Homo sapiens: one gene and its partner. The protein of the gene in region 1 interacts with the protein of each later gene in a biochemical or structural test. Each region holds a gene or a part of one and is shown in the gene's direction. Other genes may lie near its edges.

The links.
Region 2: the proteins of SPRED2 (region 1) and NBR1 form a complex in vitro, tested with the Homo sapiens proteins (one study listed by BioGRID).

Annotation. Positions count from the first base shown.
Region 1 is NC_000002.12:65,334,277-65,351,346, reverse strand, and holds part of SPRED2 (sprouty-related, EVH1 domain-containing protein 2), read left to right. Parts: intron 1-6,450; coding exon 6,451-6,628; intron 6,629-16,573; coding exon 16,574-16,742; intron 16,743-16,759; exon of another isoform or gene 16,760-17,070. UniProt on the Homo sapiens protein: Negatively regulates Ras signaling pathways and downstream activation of MAP kinases. Recruits and translocates NF1 to the cell membrane, thereby enabling NF1-dependent hydrolysis of active GTP-bound Ras to inactive GDP-bound Ras.
Region 2 is NC_000017.11:43,169,050-43,186,119, forward strand, and holds the start of NBR1 (next to BRCA1 gene 1 protein), read left to right. Parts: upstream 1-2,164; 5' UTR 2,165-2,253; exon of another isoform or gene 2,254-3,054; intron 3,055-6,741; 5' UTR 6,742-6,750; coding exon 6,751-6,852; intron 6,853-8,886; coding exon 8,887-8,949; intron 8,950-10,344; coding exon 10,345-10,363; intron 10,364-11,745; coding exon 11,746-11,768; intron 11,769-17,070. UniProt on the Homo sapiens protein: Ubiquitin-binding autophagy adapter that participates in different processes including host defense or intracellular homeostasis.

The DNA of each region.
Region 1 (17,070 bases):
AAAGAAATGGGGAGGGGCAGGAGCAGAGGGCCAGTTCACAGATGGCGGACAGCATTATTTTCTTCTACAGGTATGCCTGCAGTGGACGACTAAACCTGGTCTTTATAAACCTGACTTCTCTTGACAATTGCTGGAGGTCCATGTCAAATTTCCTCCTACTGTCAAGAGCCTGACAGCTTCCCTGCCCCTCCACTCTCTGATAGCTGGAAAGGGCAGGCAGTCGAAACCCACTCCTCAGTGGCCAGGGAAGCTGGTGTTTCAAGGACCTGTTTTTGTCACTGAGGTAGCCTTTCAGCAAAAATGATGATGGTTACAACTTACCAAACTTCTGGATCTGACACGACCTGTAACACTACTTTCAGCCAGCAGGGTAGATCCCCTATTCATTTTGCAAAGGAGGAAACTGAAGCTTAAAAAGAGGTTTCTTCAGCTCCTGAGAGGGCTGGGGACTTCAGGGCCGCCTGGCCCTAGAGCACACATTCTTTGTGAGACCCAGTGCTGCCTCGCCGTCATCTCCTACACTTCCTTGGTTTATGTCTGTAACGTGGCCCAGACGGGGCCTGCTTTGAAACTGGAGAACACTTAGAACATAAAGGCTGAGGTCTAAAACTTTCCTGTGGAGATGCTAATCCAGTTTTGAAAGATTTTTTTCTCTGCCTTCCTATCCTGACTTACAATGTCACCTGCCTCTTTTGCATATTGCGTGATCCCGGGACAGGAAGCCCTGTTTTTACAAAAAGTCCACATGTTGGGAACACAAGGCTTTTTCCTTAAAGAAGCCACATTTAAATGGGAGATCCTCAGTCCAGCCAGTTTTGCTCATAACACAACTAAAGAATATGGTATTGAGGGCTGGTCGTCCAACACCATTTGTAATAACATTGTTGGGGCTGTTCAGCTCAAGTTCAGACACTCGGGCTCCATTCAGTTGGGGTTTGGACCCTTGGCTGGAGCTTCACTAGATCCACACCATTACAGCAGTTGTTAATTTCAGAAGCATTCTTTTAAAATGTTGTTATTTTTGACAAAGATAGCATGTTTTGACATTTTTTTCTAAGGCATACCAGCAGCAGTTTCCTTGTGCAAATTTTTAAAACTAATCTGCCCTTGCCCTTCCTGCCCCATCCCCCCACCACTAACAAACCCTGCATCTGTTTTAAACAGATGTTGTTTAATTCTTTCCAGAAAGAGGGGGAGGGAAGGTGGGAAGAGAGTTTTCCTCCTTTATACCTTTTTGGTAGTGGAGTTCATTGTCATTTCTGTGCTGGGTGGGGTGAAGTGCCTGAGTAACGTAAATACACCATGGATAGGAAGCAGTTGGCACGCAGCCATGCAGCTGGATTATCCAGACATCCTTTGCAGCTTTTAGTCCAGCACTTTATCCCCCTGCCTTGTTTTAAATAGCCAGATGCCTCAGTTAATGCTGGCTGTCGGGGCTGTTGCCGGAGGAGACAAAGGGGGCTTCTGCCCCTGAGCCTCCCCTTCCCCCAATCCCATCACAGAGAAGTCTATACCCTGGAGAAGGCACTTGATAGGAGGCATCGAGGCAGGAAGGAGGAGGCCTCAGAGTGCAAGCAAAGGCCAGAGTTAACAGCCTTGTAGTCTGGACACAGAAGGGTATGGTATTTTTAAATTCTCTAACAAATGGGTACTTTTTGGAAATAAGTTTATGGCACTAACATAAGTAATGCAAACTTCTCTTTTTCATGTTTACTTAATCCCCTCAAAGAAACAGAACAGCACATAACTGCAACACAAAAAAAGTGAAAGCATGTTTTAACAAGAGGTGCACAGAGTTTCAATTCTTCACCTTAGCCATCTCCTGTTGAGATGAACCCATAGTATACTTATAGAAGATTTGAGAAAGCTGTGTTGCACACTAGAGAATTAAAAGTCGTAGGACCCTTAGGTTTTTTTGTTTGTTTGTTTGTTTTTAAATAAATGGGGTTGGAGTGGGGGAAAGGATATTCTCCAAAGTTGTATGCAGTTAATCTAAATAAATGTTACAGAAGATTCTTTTTTTTTTTTTTTTTTTTTTGAGACAGAGTCTTGCTGTGTCGCCAGGCTGATCTCTGCTCACTGCATTCTCTGCTCACTGCAACCTCCACCTCCTGGGTTCAAGCAATTCTCCTGCCTCAGCCTCCTGAGTAGCTGGGATTACAGGCGAAAGCACCGCCACGCCCAGCTAATTTTTGTACTTTTAGTAGAGACGGGGTTTCACCATGTTGGCCAGAATGGCCTTAATTTCTTGACCTCATGATCCGGCCGCCTCAGCCTCCCGAAGTGCTGGGATTACAGGCGTGAGCCACTGCGCCCAGCCCAGAAGGTTCTTAATCTAAGGGAATATGCATGTTGAATCCTGAAATAGTTGGATTAGTCATATATGTACATGTATGTCCTATGACTTTTATATGTACTTCTACATGATTTTTCAATTTTTAGGAATAGAAAGTACTGTGATCCCAATTTAGTAATTGTGGTTCATAAGTAAATAAGTATTGAACACTATATGTTTTTATAGGAATTCTGTTAGCCATAGATTTTTTTTTTTTTTAGACGGAGTTTTGCTCTTGTTGCCCAGGGTGGAGTGCAGTGGCGCGATCTCAGCTCTGCCTCTGGGGTTCAAGCTATTCTCCTGCCTCATCCTCCCGAGTAACTGGGATTACAGGCGCCCACCATCAAGCCCAGCTAATTTTTTGTACTTTTAATGGAGACGGGGTTTCACCATGTTGGCCAGGCTGGTCTTGAACTCCTGACCTCAGGTTATCCGCCCACTTCAGCCTCCCAAAGTGCTGGGATTACAGGCATGAGCCACCGCTTCCAGCCTGCTATAGATAATTTTTTTTAAACCTGTTTATATTGTGAATTTAACCCCATTCATTCCGCAACCTGTTACATATAAGACACCATTCTAGGCTCTAGGGATATAGCAGTGAACAAAAAAGGCAAAGTTTCTGCTCCTGTGGAATTCATATTCTGGTAGGCAAGCAGATATTTTATTGAGCAAGCATTGATTTAGTAGCATATAGAAAGCCAAAGCAGAGGGGAGAAGATTTAAGAGGGGTGGAGGGTGCTATGCTGCTTTATATAGAGTGGGCAGGGAAGTCCTCTCTGAAATAACCTTGGACAGAGACTTAAGTGAAATAAGAGAATGAACTCAGTTGGTATGTGAGGAGTAGGATTTGAACAGAAGAAACAGCAAGTGCAAAGGCCCTGAGGTAGAAGGATGCTTAATATGGAGGCCAGTGGGACCAAAGTGGAATGAGCAAGGAGAGTAATAGGGTAAGGTCCAGATTTTGACTTCTGCTTGGCGATACCACTGGAGGGTTTGTTTCAGTAGAATGATCTGACTTACCTTTCTATTTTCTGGGTTAAGTTGGGCAAACGTGGAAGCAAGGATGCCAGTTAGAAGGCTACTGCAGCAATCTCAATGGAAGGTGATGGCAGCTGGATCAGGTCAGTGTCAGTAGAAGTGGAAAAAGTGGATCCTGGATATATTTTGAAGAGAGAACTAGAAGGATGAGGAGGTGTCAGGAACCAAGAGAGTTCAACCTGAAACATGTTGATTGTGATACGTATTCGATGCCTATGTAGAGACCTCACATAGGCCCTTGGTTCTACTGGCCTGAATCTCACAGAAGAGACCTGGATGGAAATGTGAATTTGGGCACTGTTGGTATGTAGAAGGTTTTTAAGTGGAGGAAGTTGGCCCTAGCTTGAATCATGGATGGCTTAACCACAGTTACAGGAGGAAGGGCGGAGAGAGTGCTGGTACAAAGCGTAGGCATGGTGGTGGGCACAGGCGAAAGGTCTCCTGTGATTTTGTCTATTTTCTCAGTGAAACTAAAGCAACTTCATCCATCATCTGAGAGTGAGGGGGTAGGAGGCCATGTGAAGTTGTCTTTGGGGGACAGATCAGGGAAATGTAGCAGGATGCCAGGTGGCACTTAAGGATTCACTTGAGAGTAGTGTTTATGGCTTTAAAACTAGTCCTATGAGCATAGTAGAGTGGGGTTTTTCCCTCTCACTATGTTCAGCAGCCTGGGTGGGGTTACAGAGTAGGTAGATGGTAGGATTTAACTCCACTGGGGTCATGCCAGGCAATGGCAACAAGCAAGGGGAGGAGTAGAGAATCAGTTGAGGACATGGGGTTTGGGGGAGGGCAAAAGTGGTCAGAACAATAGATTGTTGGCCCCAACAGGGTAAAGAATTATTGGAGTCTGGAGGGAGAGAGCTGCAAACTTACGAGGTGGTCGGAGAGCAGGATGCTTACAATTGAGTTATGGAGGTGGTGCAGATATTGGTAATGACGAGATTCACGGTTGACCTGGGCATGAATGGCTAAAGTTGGTTGTAAGACAAGGGCATTGGAAGGAAACAGGCCCAGACACTGAGAGGCCAGGGAATTGGAGGAATCCTCCATGTCAATAATGAAATTATCAAGAATCGGGCCAGGGATCATGGTGGAGAGATGGAGAGTCAGTGAGCCTGGTTGCTGAAGTCTTCAAGGAATGAAGGGAAGTGAGGTCTGTAGAAGACTGAAGAAGGGTTGTGAGAGGGGTCAGGGTGTGAGCTTCAGAAGCACTGGAGGGAGGCTGAATAGTCTGCAGCAGTGGCAAGCACCATACCCACATCTAGGCCCAGCAGGGTGCAGTGGGGAGATAGAAAGCAGCCCTGGGAGAATGGGCCACAGAGGCCCAGCCAAGAGTGCATTTTAATTTAGGTTAGGAAAGGGAAAGGAACTTATATGAGGTACCTAGAGTATCAGATTCATAGAGACAAGACAGTAGAATGGTGGGTGCCAGGGGCTGAGGGGTCGAGGAAGTGGAGAAGGGGGAGTTAGTGTTTTTCATAGGTACAGAGTTTCAGTTTGGAATGACGAAAAGTTCTAGAGGTAGAAAGGGGTGATGGTTGCCCAACAGTGTGGGTGTAATTAATGCCACTGAACTTGTATACTTAAAAATGGTTAAAGCGGGAAATTTTATGCCATTCATATTTTACCGCAATGAAAAAAAAAATGAAAGGAATGATCAGAGAAGGGGATGAGGAAGTAAAGGGAATGGTAGATCTTGGGTTGGGGGGGCCAAGGGAGATCAGTTGGGTGGCAGTGGAGGGTGAGCCATAGGGGGTCATAGAAAATCTGGTGGCTTTGCCTTTAGCGGTGAGTGAGGTGAGCAGGGCTGTGGGGCACAGGGACTGCCTCCACGTCTCTGGCCAATTGTGGGGACCAGGTTCTGAGTGCCCAGGGTGAGGGCGTCTTCCCTGAGGCCCAGGGAATAATGGGGGTTCTTTGTTACTCTGCAACTTTGTTTCCTGAGAATCTGTTATAACGCCTGGCATATACAACACGCAAATATATGTTTGAATGAGTAAAAATGAATTCTATCCAAAGAAAGAAAACAGCAAGTGAGAATGTAATGGCCTTGCCAAAAATCCAAATAAATTTCCCCCAAAAGTGATGAAGAATGAAAAGAAGCTAGAATTGGTCTCTGGGGGAGAAAAAGGATTTTTGGCAAATGTGCAGAAGAACTTATTGTGAAATTGAGGTTTTAGACTGGAAGAAATAAAATCATAAACAGAAGTCTACAAATATGTAAAGGGTTATTGGAATTGAAATATTTTCCTACCTAGATACGTGATTTCATGGTGAATTTATGATTTGCAAGTAGATTATCCTATTTTATGCTAAATGAGATTCTTGGCTTTATAAAATGTTAAAACTTGGTCATTCATTTTCAACTCATTTTAAAGGGTTGAAACCATAATACCGTCTTAATAGGTTTGTAGTCTGGGCGTGGTGGCTCCCGCCTGTAATCCCAGTGCTTTGGGATGCCAACATGGGTAAATCACCTGATGTCAGGAGTTCCAGACCAGCGTGCCAACATGGTGAAACCCCATCTCTACTAAAAATACAAAAAACTAGCCAGGCATGGTGGCAGGTGCCTATAATCCCAGCTACTTGGGAGGCTGAATCAGAATCGCTTGAACCCGGGAGGCGGAGGTTGCAGTGAGCCGACATCGCGCCATTACACTCCAGCCTGGGCAACAAGAGCGAAACTCCGTCTCAAAAAAAAAAAAAAAAAAAAACAACAACTAAAAACCAAAATAGGTGTGTGTCTTTCCAACCTAAAGATACTGAATTACAGAAATCAATTCATTTATCAGTACTTACACCTAGAAACTGGAGAATATTGTGCCTGTATACATCTTTCGATCACAAGTAATTTTTAATTACTTATCTTTTTTAAAATGTACTTTTATATTGAGTTTAAGTGTTTTGTTTTTTCCCTAAAAGTTGAGATGGACCACTTTTTAAGGTTGCCGCCAAGCATAGATTTCTTTCGATAAAACAAAAAAAGTGCTGGCTGGTGGTCATCTTGCATTTTGAAACGTGTTCTGCAACTACCAGACCATTGTCATGCCCTGTGCTTCTTCTTCTTGTCGTTTTAGTGACAGCTATATTGTGCGTGTCAAGGCTGTGGTTATGACCAGAGATGACTCCAGCGGGGGATGGTTCCCACAGGAAGGAGGCGGGATCAGTCGCGTCGGGGTCTGTAAGGTCATGCACCCCGAAGGCAATGGACGAAGCGGCTTTCTCATCCATGGTGAACGACAGAAAGACAAACTGGTAATGGCAGACATACAACTCGTGGGTTAAATTAGTAACAACTGCTTTCTTTACGTTAAATCATAGTCCTCTTTCCTTAACGTATTTTTTTCTTTCTTTCTCTGACTTCAAACTCTTGCAAAAGCTTCAAAAGTTAGAACCCCGGAGCTGGTGCCAAATTGTAAAACGTGACTGTCCTTTCCAGCAAAGTCTCTTTTGACCACACGCTTTATCCGAGATGCTTAGAAGTATATTTGGCTGTTTTATTTGCATCTTTGATTAAGATGTCTATCATTGTAAAAAGGTATTCAAAACAAAAGTGTACTCTTTTATTATTATGAATCACATTGTACTGAGCTGTGAAGTCAGTGTTTTAAAAATGTAGAGTTTATTCATGGAGCATGCCATTGAGGTTTGGATGGTGGCAGGTAAAACAGAAAGGCAAGATGTCATCTGACATTAGGCTACTTATAAATAAATGTTTATCTAGCTTTTATTTCATGCCCTAATGAATAAAACATGCTTGGAAAAAGAAAGTAACAAGAAGTAGTGGTATCATACTTTGTGGGTTTTTTTGGGTTTTTTTTTTTTTTTTTTTTTTTTGAGACGGAGTCTCGCTCTGTCACCTAGGCTGGAGTGCAGTGGCATGATATTGGCTCCCTGCAACCTCCACCTCCCAGGTTCAAGCAATTCTCCTGCTGAGTAGCTGGGACTACAGGTGCGCGCCACTACACCCAGCTAGTTTTTGTATCTTTAGTAGAGACAGAGTTTCACCATATTGGCTAGGTTGGTCTCGAACTCCTGACCTCAGGTGATCCACCCACCTCGGCCTCCCAAAATGCTGGGATTACAGGCATGAGCCACCGTGCCTGGCCCATACTTCTATAAATTATTATCCATGCTTATAGATAAATACTTTGGAAAGTAATCATCACCTCCCAAGGGTGGGGGATTGACACTTCATAATATATGGTCTTATGGAGGAACTCAAATGTTCAGTTCTATGTTATGAAGGAATCTATGATAGGAAGGAAAATTGAATGTCCAAAATCTGTTTTAAATTCATGGCCCTAAACATGGAAGAACACTACTTCTATCTGTATTTGATCATGGAGTGTATACTCAGAAGCCAACAGATGATTCAGAATGTGCAGGATTGTGCAGGATCCCACAGAGAAAATGCAAAGACACCACAAGAATATGTCAGTGTTACATCTGAGACCCTTTACAGCAGCATCTGTTGGGTTTTATGTGTTAAGTGTACAAATTTAACCTTCTTTTGCAAGCACTTCTTATAGTTTAAAAAAATTTAGAAAATAGATAAGACAGAACAATTTGTAAATGTTACATGTGGGTTAACAGAAATGTTATTTTCACATTTGATTTCATTTCTGAAAATTTAAAGGGAGAAGACAGCTAATTTTAAGAAGTATTTGTTCAGGAAATACCCTATATAATAGTCAAATAATGAAAACATTCTTGTTTATAATATTTTTGCAATAAAAAGCAATGTAACTATATTACCAATAAAAAGTAAAATGACTACCATTTATCTAGCATTTACCATGTACTAAGTATAATCCAGCCCTTCGGTTAGATCTCTCATTGTATCCTTACAGCAGCCTGTATAATTGTAATTGAAGAAATTATGATTCAGAAAGATTCCTTGTTCTTAGTGGCCTGTTTTGGGGGCCTGGAACCAGTATTTGATTCTCTTGTCACTCTGACCCCAAAACTGAACAACCACCCTTAGCCCTTTGATGTAATTTTCCCACTTTGTACTTTTTTTTAAAAAGGCAGGATCTCACTTTGTTGCCCAGGCTGGCCTCCAACTCCTGGGCTTCAAATGGTCCTCCCACCTCATCCTCCAGAGTAGCTGGGACTACAGACACATGCCACTGTGCCCAGCCATATTTTTAAACAGTTGTGTATCTTATTTATTTTGCCTTAAACATTCTCTTTCAAGACTATCATGAAACAACATTGCCCTAACATTCTCATATGAAATTTTCCATGTTGCTGATATCAGTTTGATGTTTCATTATTTGACCACCTCCTTAGTGTCAAATATTAAGGTTCTTCCCCTCACCTCAGTGTTAGGAATACACCTATGTGAATTTTCCACGTTTATTATAGTTTTGGAATAATTTAGGAGGTCATATTTTTATGACTTTTGATACATGTGCAAGGAGCTGCTACCAGTATTAGAATTTCCTTTAACACATTGAGGGATATAAAATATACATACATATATAATATACGTATACAAAATATTCATACATATATAATATATATACAAAATATACATACATATAATATACGTATACAAAATATACATACATATATACATATACAAAATATACATACATATAATATACGTATACAAAATATACATACATAATATACGTATACAAAATATACATACATAATATACGTATACAAAATATACATACATAATATACGTATACAAAATATACATACATAATATACGTATACAAAATATACATACATAATATACGTATACAAAATATACATACATAATATACGTATATAAAATATACATACATAATATATGTATATAAAATATACATATAAAATCTTATTGCTTGCTAATTAATAAAATGTTTTTCTGTTTGTTAAACAGTTATAACTGTGAATTAATTATCTGTTGATGTCCTTTGTATATTTACTTATCAGGGCCTTATTTTTCTCCTTCATGTGTATGCCCTCTTGCATAATAAAGATATGAATCTCCATCTGTCATATTTGCTGCAAGTATATTTTTATAATCTGTTGCTTGCCCTTTTAGTTCTTATTTTTATATATATAGAAATTTTTTTCCACTTCTTTGGTCTTTTTGTTTTTAGGGTTATTCTGTGTTTTACCAGATTATCTTGTCTGAAGGCTTATGTTTTTAGAGCTACTTTTTCCTGGTATTTCTATGGTTTGTCATAGAATACTTCAACCTAAAGTGGCCCTTTAGCTTATCTAATCTAGTCACTGGTAAGACATTACTAGTGCATAGTAAACTTTTACCATTTGTTCCAGGTCCTTTAAGTAAATAACCTCAGTTAAATTCCTGCAACATTTTGAAGGAGGAAGATACTACTATTTCCACATTGTAGTGGGGAAACTCAATGCTCTAAGAAGTGAGCCACGTCCTTGGCATGGGGTGGGCAGTGTCACCAGCAGAGCCTGCGTTTGAGCTCATTTCTTTGCAAAATCAAAGCCTGTCCCTTCACACTAACTTGGCATAATATTAGGGCAGTCCAGTCCTCTGTCCGCCCCCGCTGAGTCGTGGACCAACTGCTGTTGTTTGTTGCTAGTGTACACAGATTGCACTATCCTAAAAGTGTGCCTCATCCCCTCCCCCATCATGTTTCTCCATTTCCCCACCCCTTTTCCTGTCCCCTTTACATTCCTTGACTCCACACTTGTGGGCTTTTATATTCACTAGTACCTAAGTCACACACCCATATGTCCTGCTGTACTTCTCTGTCTCTCCATCCCTCACCTTGCCTGTTTCACACTCCAGGAAATTCTGGATTTCTGTACTGAGTGGTACTTAACCCCTCCCCTCACACCCATACCCAGCACACTCATGCACATGCACACACACACACACACACACACACGCCCGTACCCAGTCTCCCTTCCTCTCTCTCTCTCACTGCCCTCCCCCCCACCACCCCGCCCCTTTCTCTCTCCTTAGAGATATGATAACTCTTCCTTTGGCCTCTCAAGCTTCTCTAATGCAATGCTAGTGCCCACTGGAGACCATGCGCCCACATGGGAGCTCTGCAAATGTGGTGAGTTATTGAGGAACCCCCCTCTAAAAGGTGGAATGGCAAAGAAAAGATGAAGATTATTTTTAGGATATATTGGATGGATTGTATCAGAGTTCCCAGTATTCCAACTAGGGCATGAAGTGCTCTTTCAGATAGAAACAGTGTTGTCAGTTTTTACAATGTAGTGCACATCTAGAATTCAGCACATTGTGGGAGTTTGTTTCGTTACATATTGAGGGCTGTTAACTACCATTGTTTCTGTGGGAAAAGTCTCTGTTCCAGACAACCATTCACGAGTAGTCAGGTAATTTTTTGGTAAGCTGGGGACAGTCAAGCCTGAGAAATTATATTTAAATTAAAATTTTCTGAGTTGAATCTCATTTTTAGATGGATTAGAGGAGTTTACTCCTGAAACAAATCTTATGAGAAACCTCTTTATGGAGACTAATCACAAAATCTAAGAGTTTGATCATTCCAGTCATTGCCCATGTGTAGGTCAGCGAGCATTCTCACATAACATTTGGTGGGAATTTGAGCTGGCAAAGCTCTTTGAAAAGCAATTTGGCAGGATTTTAATTTTAAATGTGCATATCTTTTTACCTAGCAGTTCACATCTAGAACACTATCCTTTAGAAAAAGACTTAAACACACAGAGATTTATGGACAGTAACAGTTCTTAAACTTTTTTGGTCTCAGGATCCCTTTACACTCCAAAATTTTATTCAGGACCTCAGAGAGCTTTTGGTTTGGTGAGTTACAGCTATTTATAACTTGCCATATTAGAAATTAAAATGGAAAAAATTTAAAACTTTTAATTAAACAGTATTGTTAATATAAATGACATTTTATGGCAAATAACTGTATAACTTTTCCAGAACAAAAGTAATTATGAGAAGAGTGGCATGGCTTTATGTTTTTGAAGATCTCATTAATATCTGGCTTACCAGAAAATAGCTGGATTCTGGTATCTGCTCCTGCTTTTAATCTGTAATATATTATTTTGGTTGAAGTATATAAAGAAAATACAGCTACTCACAGAGAAGGGGAGTTAGTAAGGGGAGAAATATTTTAATAGCCTTTTCAGACAATTGTAGATATTCTTCTTTGATACTACACTAAAACTCAACCATGTGGAATCTGAAATCTATCAATGGACCTTTCATACTCTGTTACATTACCACCCACTGGTTTATCTTTCACTTTCTTTTTTTTTTTTTTAGGATTTTTTTTTAATTTTATTTTATTTTTTATTGATCATTCTTGGGTGTTTCTCACAGAGGGGGATTTGGCAGGGTCATAGGACACTAGTGGAGGGAAGGTCAGCAGACAAACAAGTGAACAAAGGTCTCTGGTTTTCCTAGGCAGAGTGTTTGTGTCCCTGGGTACTTGAGATTAGGGAGTGGTGATGACTCTTAACGAGCATGCTGCCTTCAAGCATCTGTTTAACAAAGCACATCTTGCACCGCCCTTAATCCATTTAACCCTGAGTGGACACAGCACATGTTTCAGAGAGCACAGGGTTGGGGGTAAGGTCATAGATCAACAGGATCCCAAGGCAGAAGAATTTTTCTTGGTACAAAACAAAATGAAAAGTCGCCCATGTCTACTTCTTTCTACACAGACACGGCAACCATCCGATTTCTCAATCCTTTCCCCACCCTGCCCCCCCTTCCATTCCAGAAAACCGCCATCGTCATCATGGCCCATTCTCAATGAGCTGTTGGGCACACCTCCCAGACGGGGTGGTGGCTGGGCAGAGGGGCTCCCCACCTCCCAGTAGGGGCGGCCGGGCAGAGGCGCCCCTCAGCTCCTGGACCGGGCGGCTGGCCGGGAGGGGGCGCTGACCCCCCGCCCAACCTCCCTCCCGGACGGAGCGGCTGGCCCGGCGGGGGGCTGAGCCCCCCACCTCCCTCCCGGACGGGGCGGCTGGCCGGCCAGAGGGGCTCCTCACTTCCCAGTAGGGGCCGCCGGGCAGAGGCGCCCCTCACCTCCCGGACGGGGCGGCGGGGCAGAGGCGCTCCCCACATCTCAGACGATGGGCTGCCGGGCAGAGACGCTCCTCACTTCCTAGATGGGATGGCGGCCGGGAGGAGGCGCTCCTCACTTCCCAGGTGGGATGGCGGCCGGGCAGAGACGCTCCTCACTTTCCAGACTGGGCAGCCAGGCAGAGGGGCTCCTCACATCCCAGACGATGGGCAGCCAGGCAGAGACGCTCCTCACTTCCCAGACGGGGTGGCGGCCGGGCAGAGGCTGCAATCTCCGCACTTTGGGGGGCCAAGGCAGGCGGCTGGGAGGTGGAGGCCGTAGCGAGCCGAGATCACGCCACTGCACTCCAGCCTGGGCACCATTGAGCACTGAGTGAATGAGACTCCGTCTGCAATCCCGGCACCTCGGGAGGCCGAGGCTGGCGGATCACTCGCGGCTAGGAGCTGGAGACCAGTCCGGCCAACACAGCGAAACCCCGTCCCCACCAAAAAAACACAAAAACCAGTCAGGCGTGGCGGCGCGCGCCTGCAATCGCAGGCACTCGGCAGGCTGAGGCAGGAGAATCAGGCAGGGAGGCTGCAGCGAGCCGAGATGGCAGCAGTACAGTCCAGCTTTGGCCCGGCATGAGAGGGAGACCGTGGAAAGGAGAGGGAGAGGGAGACGGGAGAGGGAGAGGGAGACGGGAGAGGGAGAGGGAGACGGGAGAGGGAGAGGGAGACGGGAGAGGGAGACGGGAGAGGGAGAGGGAGACGGGAGAGGGAGAGGGAGACGGGAGAGGGAGAGGGAGACGGGAGACGGGAGAGGGAGACGGGAGAGGGAGAGGGACTCTTTCACTTTCAATAGATCTCTTACTCATCCCTGATTTTGTAACATCATGCACTGGTCACCTGAAAAATAGTGCTCCACTGAGTTAAGCAGATCTTCCAAATGTTGATACATTTTATTCTATAATATCAAAAAACTACATTTCTTAGTATTGCCACTAACTCATTAATATAAAAAAACTACATTTCTTAATATCGCCACTGACTCATTAATATCAAAAAAACTACATTTTTTAATATTGCCACTGACTCATTAGAAAAGTCTTTAAGTACCAGGAAGCTGTCTAGAATTCTAATTTATACTTCAAATATAGATAAGGATGTAAATTGCAGCATTGCCTTCAAGGTGACCAATTCTTACTGACATAAATGTCCGTTAGTATGGAGAATGGTTGAATAAATCTAATACATCCATACAGATGAATTAAACAATTATTTTACCTTCCTGTATCTCTATGACATATTTTTAAGGAAAATAAAAAGCAAGTTAAAAACAACTTATAGGTGTGGCTACATTTAAACACAGTTGCCCTTACACAGAAACTTACCTGTGTATATGTAAAGAAGCCACAAAATGGAAACTGGGATTGTGCCCGCTCTACTGACAGTGGGGAACTCGACAGAGAGGGATGTTGACGGTGGAGGGGAGAGATGAGTAGGAATGGAGTCCTCATGTCTTCAGCTAATACTTAAATCTCCCACAACATGTATTTCTTGTGTAGTTTTTTTTTTCAAGTCTCGAACAAGAACATAATCACTTTTTTTCTCCGTATGCATCTTATTTAAACGGGTATTTTTTAAAGCCTTTCTCAAGTTTTAAGTTAGTGTCTAATTGTGTGCGTGCCAAAACTTCACCAGAGAGTTTATATCTGTTGGGAAGATTAAAGCATCTAAAACCTTTTCATTTTTGTCTTTAAACTTAGATACATATGATACTATTTTGCTTTAGAGGACATAAAGAGATGGTATCTGATTTCCCCCCTCACTTAATTTAGGTGGCTGAACTTATTTTACTCAAACTTTATTTTTTTTTTGAGACAGAGTCTTGCTCTTTCGCCCAGGCTGGACTGCAGTGGCACGATCTCGGCCCACTGCAAGCTCCGCCTCCCGGGTTCACGCTATTCTCCTGCCTCAGCCTCCCTAGTAGCTGGGACTACAGGTGCCCGCCACCATGCCCGGCTAATTTTTTGTATTTTTAGTAGAGATGAGGTTTCACCGTGTTAGCCACGATGGTCTCGATCTCCTGACCTCATGATCCGCCCGCCTCGGCCTCCCAAAGGGCTGGTATTACAGGCGTGAGCCACCGCGCCCGGCCATTTTACTTAAACTTTTCTAAGAAAATGTACCTTTGGAATAATTTCAAAGTTGGAAAATATCAACCAAAGACTAATTTTTTCACCCCCAAAATATGGAGAAACTAGGAGTCTTTGTTTTTAGAATACAAAAAGTTTATTTTGAGACTTTGAATTGAGACTATTAAATTCTAAAATAGATAACATTTGTTAAATTCTTGATTATTTGGATTTCCCCAATGTGGAATGGGGCTGGGCTGACATTTAATCATTGTGCTATTCTTAGGGGGAAATGGCTATAATAAGCAATTTAATCATAAATAGAATTATGGGAGGGAACTGTTGTCCGATCTCAATACAATGTAATAAAGTTAACTGCTTGGGACTACTATTTGATATACCAATTTGAATATTATTCTCATTTTTTTATTAAGTTAGGGAACATTCATTAGACAACCCTTAATTTATTTCTCGTTTGTTTTTTCCTTTTGTTGAGACAGAGTCTCACTCTGTCACCTGGGCTGGAGTGTAGTGGTGCACCTTCTCAGCTCACTGCAGCCTCAGCCTCCCAGGCTCAAGCGTTCCTCCCACCTCAATCTCCTGAGTAGCTGGGACTACAGATGTGTGCCACCACACCCAGCTAATTTTTGTATTTTAGTTAGAGACAGGGTCCTGCCATGTTGCCCAGGCTGGTCTCAAACTCCTGGGCTCAAGTGATCCTCTTGCCTCAGCCCCCAAAAGTGCTGGGATTACAGGCATGAGCCACTGTACTGGCCTCCTTCTTTTTGCTTTGATCTATTCTTAGAATTTATACTTATTTAAAGATATTCTCTAATTTATCTGTATACTAATTTAGGCAGGTCTTTACTCTTGTCCTTCATTTAGTCTAAATTAATAAGATCACATTGCGGTAAATGCAGATCTTTGCCAGAACAAGATTGGGCTATTAAAACTTAGCAAAATCATTATGGTGTTTGTAATGAAGCCATAGGAATAAATATTGTAAGTAGTCTGAGTTTTTTAATGAATAAAGAATGAAGTTTACGTTCAAATTATTGCAATGTTTCTTTTCTATAATATTAAATAAATTCTAGTATCTCTATCAACTGTGCTAGACGGGGTTATTTTATAATCTTGACTTTTTGTAGTCTAGTTAGGGGAACAAGACTAATACACATGAAACTGTTAAAGAATAGTTTGAAATCAGGTACTAAATTGTGAAGATGACAAGAAGGAGAATTGGAGTACATATAAAACTTGACAGGGAAGATATACTGGACAATGAATGTGAATTAGGTTTCTCATTTATTCAGTGTTTTCAGAGCATGTTCTTGTTCTCATTGATAACATTGGTGTTCTTTCCATCTTAGAGATAAAAAGATCAATCTACTCATTACAACTCAGTAAAAGCCAGTTCTGAGATTAAATTGCTAGAAACTTGAATATTGTTCTATTAATCCAAACATAAAGTTAATAGAGACCCAGATCAGGGTGGCAGCAACTGAAATGGGGTTGATATAAAAGCTGTTGAAGGAAAAATGAAATGGACCTGGTGATTAATAATACAGGAGATAGGCAGAGGAGGCAAAGATGACCACAGAGATGATGAGCCAGAGAAAAAGAGTGGAGAGGGATTGGTATTGCCAGAAGTTGGGAGAGGAGAAATTTTAGAGTAAAGTTAATTTTTCAACTTTTGGAATTTGGAGCCTCGGGGGAGGGAAGCTAGATGACCATCAATATAAAAACCCCAACATAAAAGCAGTAATCTGAAATACAGCCAAGACCCAAGACCTGAGCATCAACTTAGTGCCCTGCAGCCAGGAGGAAGAGGAATAACCGTGATGAAGAGAGTGTAGTGAAGGGGTACAACCAGGACAGTGGGGAGCAGCGAAGATCGGATGGTCAGCAGCCAAGCAAAGCCTCCTTTCCCATTGGAGAGACTCACAGATATGTGAAGGCAGGGGTTAGAGGGGTTTTGGTAGTTGCCACCAGTGATGGTTCCTAATTAGACTTCTGTAACCAGACATCATCATGGCTGTTCCACTAGTAACCAGCCTGTGTGTTTCCATCCTTCAGGTGGTATTGGAATGCTATGTAAGAAAGGACTTGGTCTACACCAAAGCCAATCCAACGTTTCATCACTGGAAGGTCGATAATAGGAAGTTTGGACTTACTTTCCAAAGCCCTGCTGATGCCCGAGCCTTTGACAGGGGAGTAAGGAAAGCAATCGAAGACCTTATAGAAGGTATTGAACTTGTCGCTGCATTCTTAGTGGGACTATGGAAATGTTCCAAATTATTTTTAATTCCAATAGTCTGCCATCATTTATTTGTGGTTTATTTGCGGGAGGGTTTGGGACCAGGTCAGTAGATGCCAAAACTTTTGGAATTTCCAAGGAGAGTAATTAAAGTGACAATTCAGGGAAAAGGAGATGGGTTTCAGAGTAAGGAGTAATCCCAATTGATTTTTAGACTCTGCTGTGAAAAAACAGGCAGGTTCTGGATTTCCATGTGCATGTATTTTTGACTGCTTTCACCTTGTCCTGACTATTGAAATGGCTTTGGTCTGGTCTG
Region 2 (17,070 bases), on another chromosome or scaffold:
ATAGCACAAATGGATCCAGTTCTTAAGTTCTCCCTCCCACAAAATCCTGTCTCCTCCCCTTCCCAGACATATTCCTGGCACTTCTTCTTCCGCAAGGGCCCATCTTCTCATATATACCAGCCGGTGTTTATTTCTTTGTTTGTTTTTGAGACGGAGTGTCGTTCTGCCACCCAGGCTGGAGTGCAATGGCGCGATCTCGGCTCACTGCAACCTCCGCCTCCTGGGTTCAAGCGATTCTCCTGCCTCAGCTCCTGAGTAGCTGGCGCGCGCCACCACGCCCGGCTAATTTTTGTATTTTTAGTAGAGACGGGGTTTCACCACGATGGTCAGGCTGGTCTCGAACTCCTGACCTCGTGATCCATCCGCCTTGGCCTCCCAAAGTGCTAGGAATACAGGCGTAAGCCACCATCCCCGGCGACCAGCTGATGTTCTTATACACATGGTGTCCCCTTCAAGGCACATTCCAGTTCCTATCAGGAGGATTCCTCCTCGGACACACTGTGCCCCCAACCTGATCCTTAGTGCTTCCCTCGAGACCTACAAACTGCCCCCTTCCCCGGGGGGTTCACAACGCCTTATGCCTCTCAGGTTCCGCCCCCGCCCCTCGCATAAGAATACCCATCTGCCTAGCTTCGGAAATTCACTTTCCCCCGCCCGTCCCCCGGAGCATCCCTTGGGCCCCTGTCCCTTTCCCGGGGCTCTTCTACCTTAACCCAGAGCAGAGGGTGCAGGCCTCCTGAGCCCAGGGGCCCAGTTATCTGAGAAACCCCACGGCCTGTCCCCCGTCCAGAACGTCTCAGCGAGCTCACGACGCGCAGTCACGTTTTTTTCCCCCCCTCTACACTGCAGATGTGGCTCCCAATGTTGACGTTGGCCAGGACCTTTGCAAACAAGCCAGGCCAAAAAGTTTCAATATTTACACTGGCTGCTTTAATAAGGGCATTGATCTTATCCTCCGTAAAGGTCACCTCATAGTCCTGCAGAATGAGGGCAGAGTAGATGCAGGCAAGCTGGGAGACGGAGGCCATAGCGCGGGCGAGTGTGGGGCTGGGGCTGCCGGACGCGGTGCTACTCACCGGATGAAGTGAGGGTCTCACCCCAACGCGGCCTTAGCTTCCTCGGAAGGACCGAACACCTTGGCGGCAGCCGAGGAAAGGGGTTCCACAGTTTTAATTTATCTGTAATTCCCACGCTTTACTGTTGCCACGGAAACCGCTGAGCAATAGCCTCTCAGAATAGGAAATCAAGACACAGTCAGAGGAAGGGCGGGACAGAAAGAGCCTAGCATCTCTCGGGGCTCTGGGTTGGCCACCCAGTCCTCCCCTGGTGACATAAAAAGAAAGAGACGGAAAAGGAAGAATTCTACCTGAGTTCGCCGTAAAGCGCCCGCCCTCTCGCCTCTACGCTTCCAGTTGCGGCTTATTACGTCACAGTAATTGCTGTACCAAGGTCAGAATCGCCACCTGAGGCCTGAATATCAGCGTAAGATAGTGTCCAAAGCAGTCTTAAGAAGAGGTCCCATTACCCCACTCTTTCCGCCCTAATGGAGGTCTCCAGTTTAGGTAAATAAAAGGATTGTTGGGAGGTGGAGGGAAAGAACTACTATTTCCAACATGCATTGCGGAACGAAAGGCCTTGGCCACACTGTTCCTTGGAAACTGTAGTCTTATGGAGAGGAACATCCAATACCAAAGCGGGCACAATTCTCACGGAAATCCAGTGGATAGATTGGAGACCTCCGCGGGCTTATACATGTCAACAGTAATGGATTGGAGTGTTGTTATGTTCTCCTATCTTGAGAGCAGAGACTAGGCCAAAAAAAGATACCTACAACTCCTAGGAAGACTACGATTCCCATCCAGCCCCACGAGTCTCGGGCAAGTAGTCCTCTAAGGTCAGTGGCCTGCGGGGACGCAGTGGGCGCCGAATTTGCCTGGGGAAGGGGAAATCCGCTCTGGCCCACATCTGCGCACTCCTAGTTCCGCCCCTCAGCCTCAATGTTTGTTATTGTTGTTCGGGTTCAGGTTGCTTCTGCCCCGCCCCATCGACGCAATCTCCACCAATCAATGGCGTGGTCGTTTTGAGGGACAAGTGGTGAGAGCCAATCATCTTGGCGAACACTCGGAGAAACAGGGGACTAGTTACTGTCTTTATCCGCCATGTTAGATTCACCCCACAGGGATAGCGGCAGAGCCGGTAGCGGACGGTCCTTGCATTGGCCTCCGGCAGGCGCCCCCCGGGGGCGGGAAGCTGGTAAGGAAGCAGCTGCGGTTACCTAGGGGTGGGGTCACGTCACGCTAAGAGGGTTTGGGGAAGTTCAAGGGAGGAATCCTGCAAAGAAGAGGGGCGACTTTTTCCGTGTTTCGGGACAGCTAATCTTTTTAGTGACAGGATGAGAGAGCCCTTCATGTTCAGAGGGACCGAGTTGGCGAGAAGCGCCGGAGAGTTGGAGAGTCTGTGGGTCAGAACATCCGGCTTCTACTGATGGAAGGCCACGACTCCCCAGTGGAATGAGGGCCTAGGCAAAGAAAATGAGAGAGCCCTCGGGGTAGTGACACTGTCTTGGGAACATGGAGTGCTAGGAAACGAAAACTGGAAGACTAGGATGAACTCTGCAAGTAAAAAAATGACACTACTTACACATCCTTCTCATCCCATCCTCGTTTTTTCGAGACCTTAAAGAGATCTCCTTGGTTAGGGACCTTCGGTTTTGGAAAGGCACTGTTTTTCCTTTTTGTCAAACACTCAGCTTTCAGGCCACACTTTTTTGAGACAGAGTCTTGCTTTCTCAAAGACCAACCCAGGCTGGGCTTGAACTGCTGAGCTCAAGCGATCCTCGTGCCTTGGCCTCCCAAAGTGCTGGGATTACAGGTATAAGCCACCGCTCCCGGCCTCAGGTCACACATTTTAAAGCCTGGATAACTTGGCTTGTAAAGGCCTCTGGTGGAGACAGTAATCAAAGCTCAGGTTGCCAGGTCTGTTTCATTAAAGGGATTTTGTTGAGGCTGAAAAAAAAATCGACGTGGAGGAAAAGCTAACTTGTGCCAAGCAAAGGTGAGTCAGTGGCATGGACTTACAATAATGCCAGTTATGAAAGCTGAAGGCCTAAGACCCAGCTATCTGACTCTACTGGCTGTAGACCTAAGGGGCAGATAGGGTTAACCATAGCTTTGGTGTTTACACACGTTTAAGATTAATGCTCCTGCTGAAAGAATTTTTTTACATGTCAGCCAAAGAGAGTTCCTTATGAAGACCTGGATATGGTCCAGCCAAGCTAGAATCTCCCACTTCCTGTTTTCTCTTAGTTGGCCCACCAGCTGGAGGAGCTCCAGAGTATCTAAATTTCCAATTGTGTAATTTGAGAAAAAGAGAGGAAGATTCATTTCCTTCACAAGTAGGGAAGTGTGTTTCTTGAAGTTGGAAAGTGATATTTCAGAATACCCACTTTTGGCGGACTGAGTCACTTCATTTCCTTGATTTTTTGCCTAAGGTCCTGGGGAATTGACAAAGATTCTCAAATTTTAAGGACCCCAATAATTACATTTCATATGAATGAATACTAGATGTCAGCAGGATTGTTGTTAAGAGACTAATATTATTTTGGTGGTGAACTTGGTTCTTGGTAGAAACAAAGAATGGAGAAAATTGGGGGATAATTGTCTTAGGGTTTCAAAAAAGTGCCTTTAAATGACAGTCTTAATTGTAGTATTTTACAGGGCAGTGCATTACATTGTGGAAAACAGTACAGGTTTATGGTTCTAAAGACTGGTTTATTATTATTTATTTATTTATTTGAGATGGAGTCTTGCTCTGTCGCCCAGGCTGGAGTGCATTGGCGCGATCTTGGCTCACTGCAAGCTCCACCTCCCAGGTTCACGCCATTCTCCTGCCTCAGCCTCCCGAGTAGCTGGAACTACGGGCGCCCACCACCACGCCTGGCTAAATTTTTTGTATTTTTAGTAGAGACGGGGTTTCACCGTGTTAGCCAGGATGGTCTCGATCTCCTGACCTCGTGATCCACCCACCTCGGCCTCCCAAAGTGCTGGGATTACAGGCGTGAGCCACCACATCCGGCCCTATTATTTTTTAAAATGTTTAATTGAACTTAATTTTTTTAAGGAGACAGGGTCTGGCTTTGTTGCCCAGGCTGGTCTTGAACTCCTAGGCTCATGATCCTTCCGCCTCAGCCTCCCAAAGTGCTAAGATTACCAGCATCAGCCACCACACCCGTCCAGTTTTTTATTTTATTTTATTTTTGAGACAGAGTCTCGCTCTATCACCCAGGCGAGAGTGCAGTGGCATGATCTTGGCTCACTGCAACCTTGCCTCCCAGGTTCAAGCAATTCTCCTGCCTCAGCCTCCTGAGTAGCTGGGATTAAAGGCCTGCGCCACTACACGCAGCTAATTTTTGTATTTTTAGTAGGGACGAGGTTTCACCATGTTGGCTAGGCTGGTCTCAAACTCGACTCAAACGATCTGCCTGCCTCTGCTTCCCAAAATGCTGGAATTACAGACATGAGCCACTGTGCTTGGCCTTTATTATCATATTTTTTATATTTGAATGACATTTTGAAAGAACTTGCGTACACATTTTTAATTTGATCCTTATGGTAACACTGTGAGATAGTCAAAGCAGACGTATTAGACCTATTTTATAGGTTAAAGAACCGAAGCTCAAAAGCGAACTGACCTGCTCACAGTTTTATGTCTAGTAATGGGCCGGAGGTATGTCTGGAAGCTAAGTCTTCCCAGTTTGTGTGCTCCTCCGCCTCCCCTCTGCCCCCCACCCCCACCCCCGCAGACCACGCTGTAAATCCCTGGGACTTAATCTTGTTCCTCTCAACCTAAGCTATTTTTTCATATCTTGTTCCTCTCAACCTAAGCTATTTTTTCATAAAGTCATAAAAACCAGTTAAACGTAACCATTCATCAGTAAACAAAATCCTTAATTAAAAACATAATGATCAGAATAGAAATCTGATTAAGGAATTGTTAACTTGTTAGGCATGATAATGATATCTAGACTGTTTTTAAAAAATTCTTATCTTTTAGAGGTACATACTCAATTCTTAATGGATAAAAGCATAGATGTCTGTCAAAATAATCTAGTAGGGAAAGGGTATTGCTGTAAACCTTTGGTTACAGCAAATTGGTCCTGAGTTGATAATTATGAAAGAAGCTAGCTTATGGGTCCATAGGGATTCATTATATTCTCTCTACTTTTGTATAGATTTAAATTTTCCCATAAAAATATTTTAAAAAATAGTCCGGGCATGGTGGCTCACGCCTGTAATCCCAGCACTTTGGGAGGCCGAGGTGGGTGGAATCACGAGGTCAGGAGATCGAGACCATCCTGGCTATCACGGTGAAACCCCGTCTCTACTAAAAATACAAAAAAATTAGCCAGGCGTGGTGGCGGGCGCCTGTAGTCCCAGCTACTCAGGAGGCTGAGGTGAGAGAATCGCTTGAAACCAGAAGGTGGAGGTTGCAGTGAGCCAAGATTGTGCCACTGCACTTGAGCCTGGACGACAGAACAAGACTCTATCTCAAAATAAATAAATACAATAATATAAAATAATTATATTATTATAGTTTGGTTAAAACATTAGTTGACTATGGTCAGTTCATTGTTGGGGCAGAAGTGGGAGATGCGGGGGTATATGTGAATGAGGATAGCCTTGAGTTGATTGTTGGTTTAACTAAGTGTTTATTACTCTCCACTTTTATATATGTTTGAAATCCCCCATTTAAAAAATCAGTACAAGGCCAGGTGCGGTGGCTCATGCCTGTAATCCCAGCATTTTGGAAGGCCAAGGCAGGCAGATCATGAGGTCAGGAGATCGAGACCATTTTGCCTAACACGGTGAAACCCCGTCCCTACCAAAAATACAAAAAAAAAAAAAAAAATTAGCCGGATGTGGTGGCGGGCACCCCAGCTACTCGAGAGGCTGAGGCAGGAGAATGGCGTGAACCCAGGAGGTGGAGGTTGCAGTGAGCTGAGATCGTGCCACTGCACCCCAGCCTGGGGCGATAGAGCGAGACTCCGTCTCAAAAATAAATAAATAAATAAAATAAAATAAAAAATCAGTAGATTGTGAAAAAACATAGTAACTTGGATGGAGGGCATTGAATGCTACCTCTGTGTAGTTTCTTGGCTAGTGTTTTGGCCTGTAAGTTCGTAAAACTGGTAGAAAACCTAGGTTCTCAAGTTAGGACAACCCTCCTTCTGCAAGAAAAATGTAGAATGTCACTCTCAAGTCATACAAGAATACAAGTTCCCTGAGGGCAGAGACCTTATCTCTCTTATCCATGTTGGTATGTCCTGCTACTAGTAAGTATTTGTTTAGTTAACCAGTCATCATAAAGTACCGTAAGGATTTTACAAATGCTAGATGATTTCTGGGAATGTGGTCAAAATTTAAATACTTTCAGCATACTTCTGTTTCCACATGTTTCCAACATGTGGAAGTTCCTAATAACTTCAAGAATAATTTTTGTGACTTAAGTACAAGTCTTTATGGCATGGTTTTAGCCTATCTTTCTTTCCTGAAACAATTCCTATTTAACAGTGATGGTAAGTTTCGTAAGAACAGGGACAGTGTTTCTTTTGTTCATTGCTGTCTCCCAAGCCCAGCCCATATTGGGTCCTCACAAGTATTTGCTGAGTGAACTTTTAGTGCAACTTATAGAACCCTTTCTAATGTGTTTTTCTCTCTCTCCCACCAACCTTCTCAACCCTAGCCTCACAGCATGGAACCACAGGTTACTCTAAATGTGACTTTTAAAAATGAAATTCAAAGCTTTCTGGTTTCTGATCCAGAAAATACAACTTGGGCTGATATCGAAGCTATGGTGAGTGTTACTTTATTTTGTTTCTCCTTGGTTTAAGCATGGTTATTTTTTCCAAAGGTAGCTATTTTTAGCAGTGTTGTTTCATAGCTGTGAAGTCTGTCATAGTTACCATTTCTGGGCCTTTTGGAAAATTGCTTTTGATAGGGTTTCAGTATTCATATATGAGATGTGCCCCAATAAAGGGAACCAACACATAAATTTCCTTTTGAACATTTTAGAAAGGGAAGGTAAAATTGTTTTTAGTGAGATAGGATTTAGAAAACCTATTAATTTTAGAACCAGTATGAGGAGTGAATTGGTGTGGACTCCACCCAACCAGATCCCAAGGAAATGTTCTCTTGTGTGAGGATATGACTTGTGTTTTGCACAAGGATATAACTTGTGTTTTGCAAGAGCCTATCAATTGTTTTTATTGCTAGGTCAGAGGTTGAGTATCTCAGAGTTGAGCAGGAAAAACTTTCATACCTGCTTAGACAGCAGTTCACCTGTTCCGTTTTTTTGCTAAGGCTTTTCCTCCTCTTGGTTTGCCCTTTGTACTCTTCTGTTTTTGTTCAGTTTGCAGTGGTGAATGTTTTACTTCCTGTGTTGACTGTGTTTCTCTCTGAAACCCTTTGGTAAAAATCTACGTTTACCTGGTTATATCTGATGATAACTAAAAAGGGAAAGAAATGGTAGATCTTAAAAGATGATCTGAGGTAGTTGTCTGCCTTCCAGCAAATACCTGTTCATACTGTCCTATCAGTGACAGTGAGACCCGTCTCAAAAAAAAAAAAAAGATTGGATTCAGAAAGAAGTTAGATCTTGTTTGCCAAAAGATGTGAAAATCAGTTATCTTTCTTTTCCTAGTAGTTAAATGAGCTGACAGCTTGCCTTTTTTCTTCCTTGTAAATTTTAAATTGTATAAGTATAATACATGCCCATTTTAAGAAGAGAAACCATCTCAAGCAGTTAATAGCCCTCCATTCTCCCCCCCCTCATCTGTTACTCCCACCTTCTTTGGGTAACCAATGTTAACAGCCCTGTATGTACTTTAAATTTTCCATGTTCATGCAGATATCATACTAGGATCATACTATAAACATTATTTGGCCAGGCACAGTGGCACACGCCTAGAATCCCAGCACTTTGGGAGGCCAAGATGGGTGGACCACTTCAGCTCAGGAGTTTGAGACCAGACTGGGCAACATGGTAAAACCCCATCTCTACCAAAAAAATACAAAAATTAGCTGGGCCTGGTAGCAGGCACCTGTGGTTCCAGCTACTCCGGAGGTTGAGGTGGGCGAATTGCTTGAGTGCTGGAGGTTGAGGCTGCAGTGAGCCAAGATCAAGCCACTATAATCCAGCCTGAGCGACAGAGTGAGACCCATCTCAAAAAAAAAAAAAAAAAGATATTTTTCGTTTTTTTTTTTTCTTATCTTGAAACTTCAGGAGATATCCATCTATACACATAACTTATACACTGTTCTACAGGATAAACTCTGTCCTATACAAATGTGAGATTAATGGGTCACAAAGCATTTTATTTGAAATTTTAATAGATTCTGCCAAATGCTTTGCAGAACAATTGTAGCAGCACACAGAAATACATGACAGTGTCCTGAAGTTTTGACAACACTGGATGTTATGGCTTTAAAAAACATTTGCTGTTCCCTACCCCACACCCCACCCAAAACACACACACACACACACACACACACACACACACACACACACACACACAGTTTGGTATTCTGATGAGATGTCATCTCATTGCTTCAATTTGCATTGTTCTGACCACCAGAAAGTTTGAAAGTCTTCTGATGTATTTGTTAGGTGTTCTGATTTCCTCTTGTATGAATTTTATGTATATTTTTACCTGGGTTGTTAATTGTATCATTAGCAGTTTTGCTGGTACTCTGGGTGTGTTGCAGATATTAACCCTTTGTTATGGGTTATTAAGGTTGTTTGTTGTTTGTCTTTTGATTTTGTGGGTTTTTTTTACTTTGACTTCTGTGTACATTATAACCTGCCTTTAAATATGTATCTCTTTTATAGGTAAAAGTTTCATTTGATCTGAATACTATTCAAATAAAATACCTGGATGAGGAAAATGAAGAGGTAAAATATATTATGGCACTTATTGCTAGGTGTTCAGAATAGGGATCTTATTTCTCCAGTGATATGGGCTTTAATAATTCAAAATAGTGTTTAGCTTATTTGTGTGGTGGTTTAAATATATTTGATAACTGAATATTCTAAGAAGACTTGCAGCATCTGAGATGGAGTTGAGAAATGGAGAAGCAACACTGAAGAATATCTCAGAGATAACTTTCACTTAAAAAAAAAAAAAGGAAACAGGGTCTCACTATGTTGCTCAGGCCAGTCTTGAACTCCTGGGCCCAAGCAGTCCTCCCACCTCAGCCTCCCAAAGTGCTGGGATTATAGGTGTGAGACACCCACCATGCCTGGCCTGGCCTGAGAGAACCTTTTTTTTTTTTCTTTTTTTTTTTTTGTGAGATGAAGCCTCACTCCATAACCTAGGCTGGAGTGCAGTGGTGCGATCTCTGCTCACTGCAACCTCCAGCTCCTGGGTTCAAGTGATTCTCCTGTCTCAGCCTTCTGAGTAGCTGGGATTACAGGTGTATACCACCACGCCTGGCTAATTTTTGTATTTTTAGTAGAGACGGTATTTCACCATGTTGGCCAAGCTGGTCTCGAACTCCTGGGCTCAAGCGATCAGCCCACCTCGGACTCCCAAAGTGCTGGGATTACAGTTGTGAGCTACCACACCTGGCCAAGATAACTTTTAAAATTATATAGTGACCTTAAGTTCACATATAGCACAAGCTACCACTTAGTTTATAATAATACAAATATAATGGCTAAGCTTTTTTTTTTTTTTTTTTTAAAGAGGGTCTCACTCTGTTGCCCAGGCTGGTGTGCATTGGCATAGCTTGCTGCAACCTAGAGCTCCTGGGTTCAAGGAATCCTCCCATCTCAGCCTTCTGGGTAGCTAGGACATACCTCTCTGCATCTGGCAAAATTTTTTAATTCTTTGGAGGGATGGAATCTCACTTTGTTGCTCAGGCTAATGGCTAAGCTTTATTGAGTGGTTACAGTGTGTCAGACTAGCCACAGTACCATGTATTGAGTACATTATTATCATCACTATTTTACTCATGAGGAAACTGAGGCACAGAGAGGTGAAAATAACTTGTCCAAATGCACAAAAACTTGGAAGTAGTAAAGTAGCCGTTCAGTCCATACCCTCTGGCTGTAGAACTCAAGCTCCTAACTGTTATATTGCACTGCCTTTTAATGTATCTGAAATAAAGGAGGGCACAGTAGATAAGCAATAAAATTTCTTAAGTGTTATTCATGACTAGCAAGTGATATGGAAAAGCTGAACGCTTGGCCTGAGTTTTTGTCTGTCCTATGGGGCTGGTCCTAGTAACAGAAATGCTCAACTGATGAGACACTTATAATTCACTGTTGCTTTTTTTCCTTTTATAGGTATCCATCAACAGTCAAGGTGAGTCCCTAAGAGAGTCTGTTCAGCCTTGTTTAAAAACCTTAATCTGCTCATTGAGGCATTTCTATTTATACTCAAACCTTATTGCAGTATTAATTTTAGAGTGACATTGCACTGATGGACATTAGTTACCTAGGGGATTTTATTGTATAGCAGTTTTTTATATATAGGATGATGCCTTTGAATGGACCCTAAGGACAGCTTTAATGGGAGGTTCTCATATTTAAGATGCCAGTCCTCTGAAATTAATATGCCTCCCAGTTCAACACATATAAGTATTCCCATGGTGTTGCATTTGTTTCTGACTTGGTATATATGTTAATATCAACTTATAAAACAAGTGGTATTCCAAAAGTTTATTTATCAGATGTTCAGAGCTTGGAGTGCATTTTCCCATAGGAACCATGTTATAGTTGAAGATTAGTTTCCCACGATAGCCCCTAAAATCTTAATTTAATCAGGTGAAATGATAGTATTAACATTGAACTCTCAGTGCGTAAATGTGAGGGACCTGGGTTGAGATTTTGTAACTGGAAGATTCCCAGTAGTGATGAAGGAGGGATTTAAGGGGAAGAACTGATCTACAGTAGATGCTGTTTGCAACAAAAAGGGAGTTTGTCAGCAAAAAGATAGTTGCTGTTCATATATAATAAGCTAAGAATTCTTTAAAGTCAGGATTAGCTGTACATTTAACAAATTTTTATTGTATATATTGAAGGTGCACAACATGATGTTATGAAATACATATACAGTAATGCATCGCTTAATGACAGAGATTTGTACTGAGAAATGCATCAATTAGGTGATTTTGTCATTATATGGACATCATAGAGTGTACTTACACAAACCTAGATGGTATAGCCTAGTACACACCTAGGATATATGGTATAACCTATTGCTTATAGGCTGCGAACCTGTAGAGCATGTTACTGTGCTGTATACTATAGACAGTTGAAACACAATGGTATTTGCATATCTAAACATAGAAAAGGTACAGTAAAAATGTGGCATTATAATCTTATGGGATCACCATCATACACATGGTTGACCAAAATGTTATGTGGCAATGGTTACTGTAGTGAAGCAAATTAACATATCTATCATCTCATTATAGTGGCCCTGTGGTGCCCTGAGCCCTCCCCAGAAACCAGCCATAATCTACTCATTTAGCAAAAATCATGAATATAATTTACGATTATTTAACTATAATATGTTCCTCATGTTGTACAGTCCATCTTTAGGATTGGCTATCCTTAATCTTATGGAATCTTTGGTTCTTGAATGAATGAATGGATGTGTACAAAATAAAAATAATTTTAAAATAATAGAATCTTTTGGGGTGTGTGAAGAAGTATCATGGTGTATATTTTTTGTTCTTTTAGGAGAATATGAAGAAGCGCTTAAGGTAATGATTATTTAATCTCATTTTTAAATAATTTAAAAAATATTATTATGGGTTGGTTTTTTTTCTTTTTTTGAGATGAGGTTGTGCTCTGTCATCCAGGCTGGTGTGCAGTGGCACAATCTGGGGTTGCTGCAGTCTTCACCTCCCAGGCTTAAGTGATCCTCCCACCTCAGCCTCCCGAGTAGCTGGAACTACAGAAACACGTCACCACGCCCGGCTAACTTTTTATATTTTTCTTAGAGACAGGGTTTCACCATGTTTCCCAGGCTGGTCTGGAACTCTTGGGCTCAAGCAATCTGCTGGCCTTGGCCTCCCAAGTGCTGGGATTATAGGCATGAGCCACTGCGTCTGGCCTAAAATATTTATTGACTGAAACTCAAACCTGAATTCCATTAGTTATGGGGAGAGACTAGTACGTATAAACACAGTGAAACCTGTTTATAGGGAGACTGATGAATGGGCACGACACTCAGCAAAAGGCAATTCATAATAAAAAGGTCCTTCTCAGTTACAGTCCCATCTCTTTGCTGGTCTTTGTGCTACTGTTCTAGTGTTTAAAAATACAAATAACTGGCCAGGCGTGGTGGCTCACGCCTGTAATCCCAGCACTTTGGGAGGCCGAGGTGGGTGGATCACGAGGTCAGGAGATCAAGACCATCCTGGCTAACGTGGTGAAACCCTGTCTCTACTAAAAATACAAAACAGCCGGGCGTGGGCGGGTGCCTGTAGTCCCAGCTACTTGGGAGGCTGAGGCAGGAGAATGGCGTGAACCCCGGAGGCGGAGCTTGCAGTGAGCCGAGATCGTGCCACTGCACTCCAGCCTGGGCGACAGTGAGACTCTGTCTCAAAACAAAAAAAACAAACAAACCAAAAAACAAATATCTTGGCCGGGTGCAGTGGCTCATGCCTGTAATCCCAGCACTTTGGGAGACTGAGGCAGGCGGATCACCCAAGGTCAGCAGTTCAAGACCAGCCTGACCATGATGGTGAAACCTCATCTCTACTAAATACAAAAAATTAGCCAGGTGTGGTGGTGCATGCCTATAATCCCAGCTACTTGGGAGGCCAAGGCAGGAGAATCATTTGAACCTGGGAGGCAGAGGTTACAGTGAGCTGAGATCACGCCATTGCACTCCAGCCTGGGCAACAAGAGGGAAACTCCATCTCAAAGACAAAAAAAACCCAAAAAACTCTTGATGCCCCCCTTTTTTTTTTCCTAAAGAGGCTGGGTCTTGCTATGTTACCCAGGCCAGCCTTGAACTGCTGGGCTCAAGTGATCCTGCTGCCTCAGCCTCCCGAGTAGCTGGGACTATGGGTGTGCACCACCATGCCTGTTCTAGAACTATGTTTACTGGTTCACATTTTTCACCTCTTTCCCTCACTCTGTTCTCTCCTTTTTTTTTTTTTTTTTTTTTTTTGAGACAGAGTCTCACTCTGTCGCTCAGGCTGGAGTGCGGTGGCGCAATCTTGGCTCACTGCAACCTCCACCTCTGGGGTTCAAGTGAGTCTCATGCCTCAGTTTCCCAAGTAGCTGGGATTACAGGTGTGCGCCACCACACCCAGCTAATTTATTTTGTAGTTTTTAGTAGAGACAGGGTTTCGCCTTGTTGGCCAGGCTGGTCTCAAACTCCTTACCCAAGTGATTCGCCTGCCTTGGCCTGCCAAGGTGCTGGGATTACAGGCATGAGCCACTGTGCACAGCCTATGTCACTCTGTTCTCTATAGCCCATACAATGTTATGTTTAAGGCAGAGATGACAGCCACTTTTTGGACATGGAATGCTTTTTTTTTTGTTTTTAGTTTCTAATTTTTAAAAATTTGTATGTTTAAATATAAAAATGTGTATAAAATGTGATGTTTTGAAATATGTATACATTGTGAAATGATTACCACAATCAAGTTAATTAACACATCCATCACCTCAGATGTAGTTACCCATTGAATGCTTTTTTTCTTTTTTTTTTGCGACGGAGTCTCGCCCTGTTGCTCATGCTGGAGTACAGTGGTGCGATCTTGGCTACCAGCAGCCTACACCTCCCAGGTTCAAGTGATGTTCCTGCTTCAGCCTTCCTAATAGCTGGGATTACAGGTGTATGCCACCATGCCCAGCTAATTTTTGTATTTTTAGTAGAGACGGCGTTTCACCATGTTGGCCAGGCTCATCTCGAACTCCTGACCTCCGGTGATCCTCTTGCCTTGGCCTCCCAAAGTGCTGGGATTACAGGCGTGAGCCACTGCGCCTGGCGTCTTTTTTTTTTTGAGACAGGGTTTTACCATGTTGCCCAGGCTAGTCTTGAACTTCTAGGCTTAAGCAACCCATCCACCTCAGCCTCCCAAAGTGCTAGGATTAGAGGTGTGAGCCATCACGCCCGGCCTCTTTTTTTCTTTGACGTGTGTGTCATTCCTTTTGTTGTTGTTTTTTGAGATGGAGTCTTGCTCTGTTGCCAGGCTGGAGTGCAGTGGCGCGACCTTGGCTCACTGTAACCTCCACCTCCCGGGTTCAAGCAGTTCTCCTGCCTCAGCCTCCCGAGTAGCTGGGACTACGGGCATGCGCCACCACACCCAGCTAATTTTTGTATTTTTAGTAGAGATGGGGTTTCACCATGTTGTCCAGGGTGGTCTCAATCTCTTGACCTCATGATCCACCTGCCTTAGCCTCCCAAAGTGCTGGGATTACAGGCATGAGCCACTGCGCCCAGCGACACGTGTGTCATTCTGTCATAGAGGCTGGAGCACAGTGGTGCAATTATGGCTTACTGCCCCCTCAACGTCCCAGGCTCAAGCAGTTCTCCCACTTCAGCCTCCTGAGTAGTTGGGACCACAGGTGTGCATCACCACACTTGGCTGGTTTTGTTTGTTTGTTTTTGAGTCTTGCTCTGTCACCCAGACTGGAGTGCAGTGGTACAATCTCAGCTCACTGCAGCCTCCGCCTCCTGGATTCAAGCAATTCTCATACCTCAGCCACACTAATAGCTGGGATTACAGGCATGTGCCACCACACCCAACTGTTTTTTGTATTTTTAGTAGAAATAGGGCTTCGCTATGTTGGCCAGGCTAGTCTTAATCTCCTAGCCTCAAGTGATCTGCCTGCCTCAGCCTCCCAAAGTGCTGGTATAACAGGTGTGAGCCACTGTACCCAGCTACCACACCTGGCTAGTTATTTTTATTTTTAAAAAGTTTTTTTTCACTGACAGCACTTGTTAAAAAAAATCACTTCGATATATTTTTTTGAGACGGGATCTCACTGTCACCCAGGCTGGAGTGCAGTGGTATGATCACAGCTCACATAGCTGGAGTGCAGTGGTGTGATTGCAGCCTTGACTTCCTGGGCTCAAGTGGTCTTCCTACCTCAGGCTCCTGTGTAGCTGGGACTACAGGAAAATACCACCATGCTCCGATGATTTTTAAACTTTTTTTTTTTTTTTAATAGAGACAGGGCCTTGCTGTGTTGCCCAGGTTTGTCTTGAACTCCTGGGCCCAAGTTATCTGCCTCAGCCTCCCAAAGTGCTCGGATTACAGGCATGACCCACCTCTCATCGCCCCAAAATACTATTCTTTTTTTTTTTGAGACAGAGTCTCACTTTGTTGCCCAAGCTAGAGTGCAGTGGCGCCATCTCAGCTCATTGCAACCTCCGCCTCCTGGATTCAAGCAATTCTCCTGTCTCAGCCTCCTGAGTAGCTGGGATTACAGGTGCATGCCACCATGCCCAGCTAATTTTTGCATTTTTAGTAGAGATGGGGTTTCACCATGTTGGACAGGCTGGTCTCGAACTCCTGACCTCAGGTGATCTGCTCAGCTCAGACTCCCAAAATGCTGGGATTACAGGCATGAGCCACCGCGCCTGGCCCCAAAATACTATTTTTATTGGAAAAGTAAATGCTTAATTATAGGACATATCTTTAAGTTTCTTGAGTTTTGTTAGTCTAGAATTAACCTTTTTGGAAACCTGAGTTAAGATTCCATAGAGAGAGTCTTGTATAAAAACCAATTAGACTAGGCGCAGTGGCTCACACCTGTAATCCCAGCACTTTGGGAGGCTGAGGCGGCAGATCACGAGGTCAAGAGATTGAGACCATCTTGGCTAACATAGTGAAACCCCATCTCTACTAAAAATACAAAAATTAGCTGGGTGTGGTGGCGTGCGCCTATAGTCCCAGCTACTCGGGAGGCTGAGGCAGGAGAATCGCTTGAACCCGGGAGGTGGAGTTTGCAGTGAGCCGAGATTGCATCACTGCACTCTAGCCTGGTGACAGAGCGAGACTCCACCTCAAAAAAAAGAAAAAAAAAAAAACAGAAAAATAGTAACCCAGTTAAGGAGAATCTTACCTAATTTGCCATCTTAAAACCTACTTTTATGGGTTTTTTTGTTTGTTTTTGTGGAATAAAGCAACACAATACTTTTGTGGTTTTAATAACAAAACCAAGTTCATGACCGGCCTGGGTAATGTATGACAAAAAATTTTTTAAATTAGCCAACAGGCATAGTGACCCAAACCTATGATACTAGCACTTTGGAAAGCCAAGGTGGGCGGAGCCCGGGAGTTCGAGACTAGCCTGGGCAACATCATGAAATTTCACCTCTACAAAAATACAAAAGTTAGCCAGGTATGGTGGTGCGCACCTGTAGTCCCAGTTACTCAGGAGGCTGAGGTGGGAGGATAGTTGAACTCAGGTGTCCAAGACCAGTCTGGGCAACACAGTGAGACTCCTGTCTCCAAACTAAAACAAAAACCTTAGCCAGGTGTGGTGGCATGCGCCTGTAATCCCAGCTACCCGGGAGGCTGAGGTGGGAAGATCGCTTGAGCCCAAGAGACAGGCTGCAGTGAGCCATGCACTGCATTCCAACATGGGTGACAGAGCAAATTGCCATCTCAAAAAAATAAAAATAAATTTCTAGGCTGGGCACGGTGGCTCATGCCTGTAATCTCAGCACTTTGGGAGGGCGAGGTGGGTGGATCACCTGAGGTCGGGAGTTCGAGACCAGCCTAGCCAACATAGTGAAACCCCATCTCTACTACAAATACAAAAATTAGCTGGGTGTGGTGGTTGGCACCTGTATGTAATACCAGCTACTTGGGAGGCTTAGGCAGGAGAATCGTTTGAACCCAGGAGGCGGAGGTTGCAGTGAGCCAAGACCGTGCCATTGCACTCCAGCCTGGGCAACAAGAGCAAAACTCCGTCTCAAAAATAAATAAATAAATAAATAAATAAATAAATAAATAAATAAATAAATTTCTAGTTAACATTCTTACCAAAGAAATAGCAAGTTGAGTGTAAACATTACATTTGTTGTTGGATTTA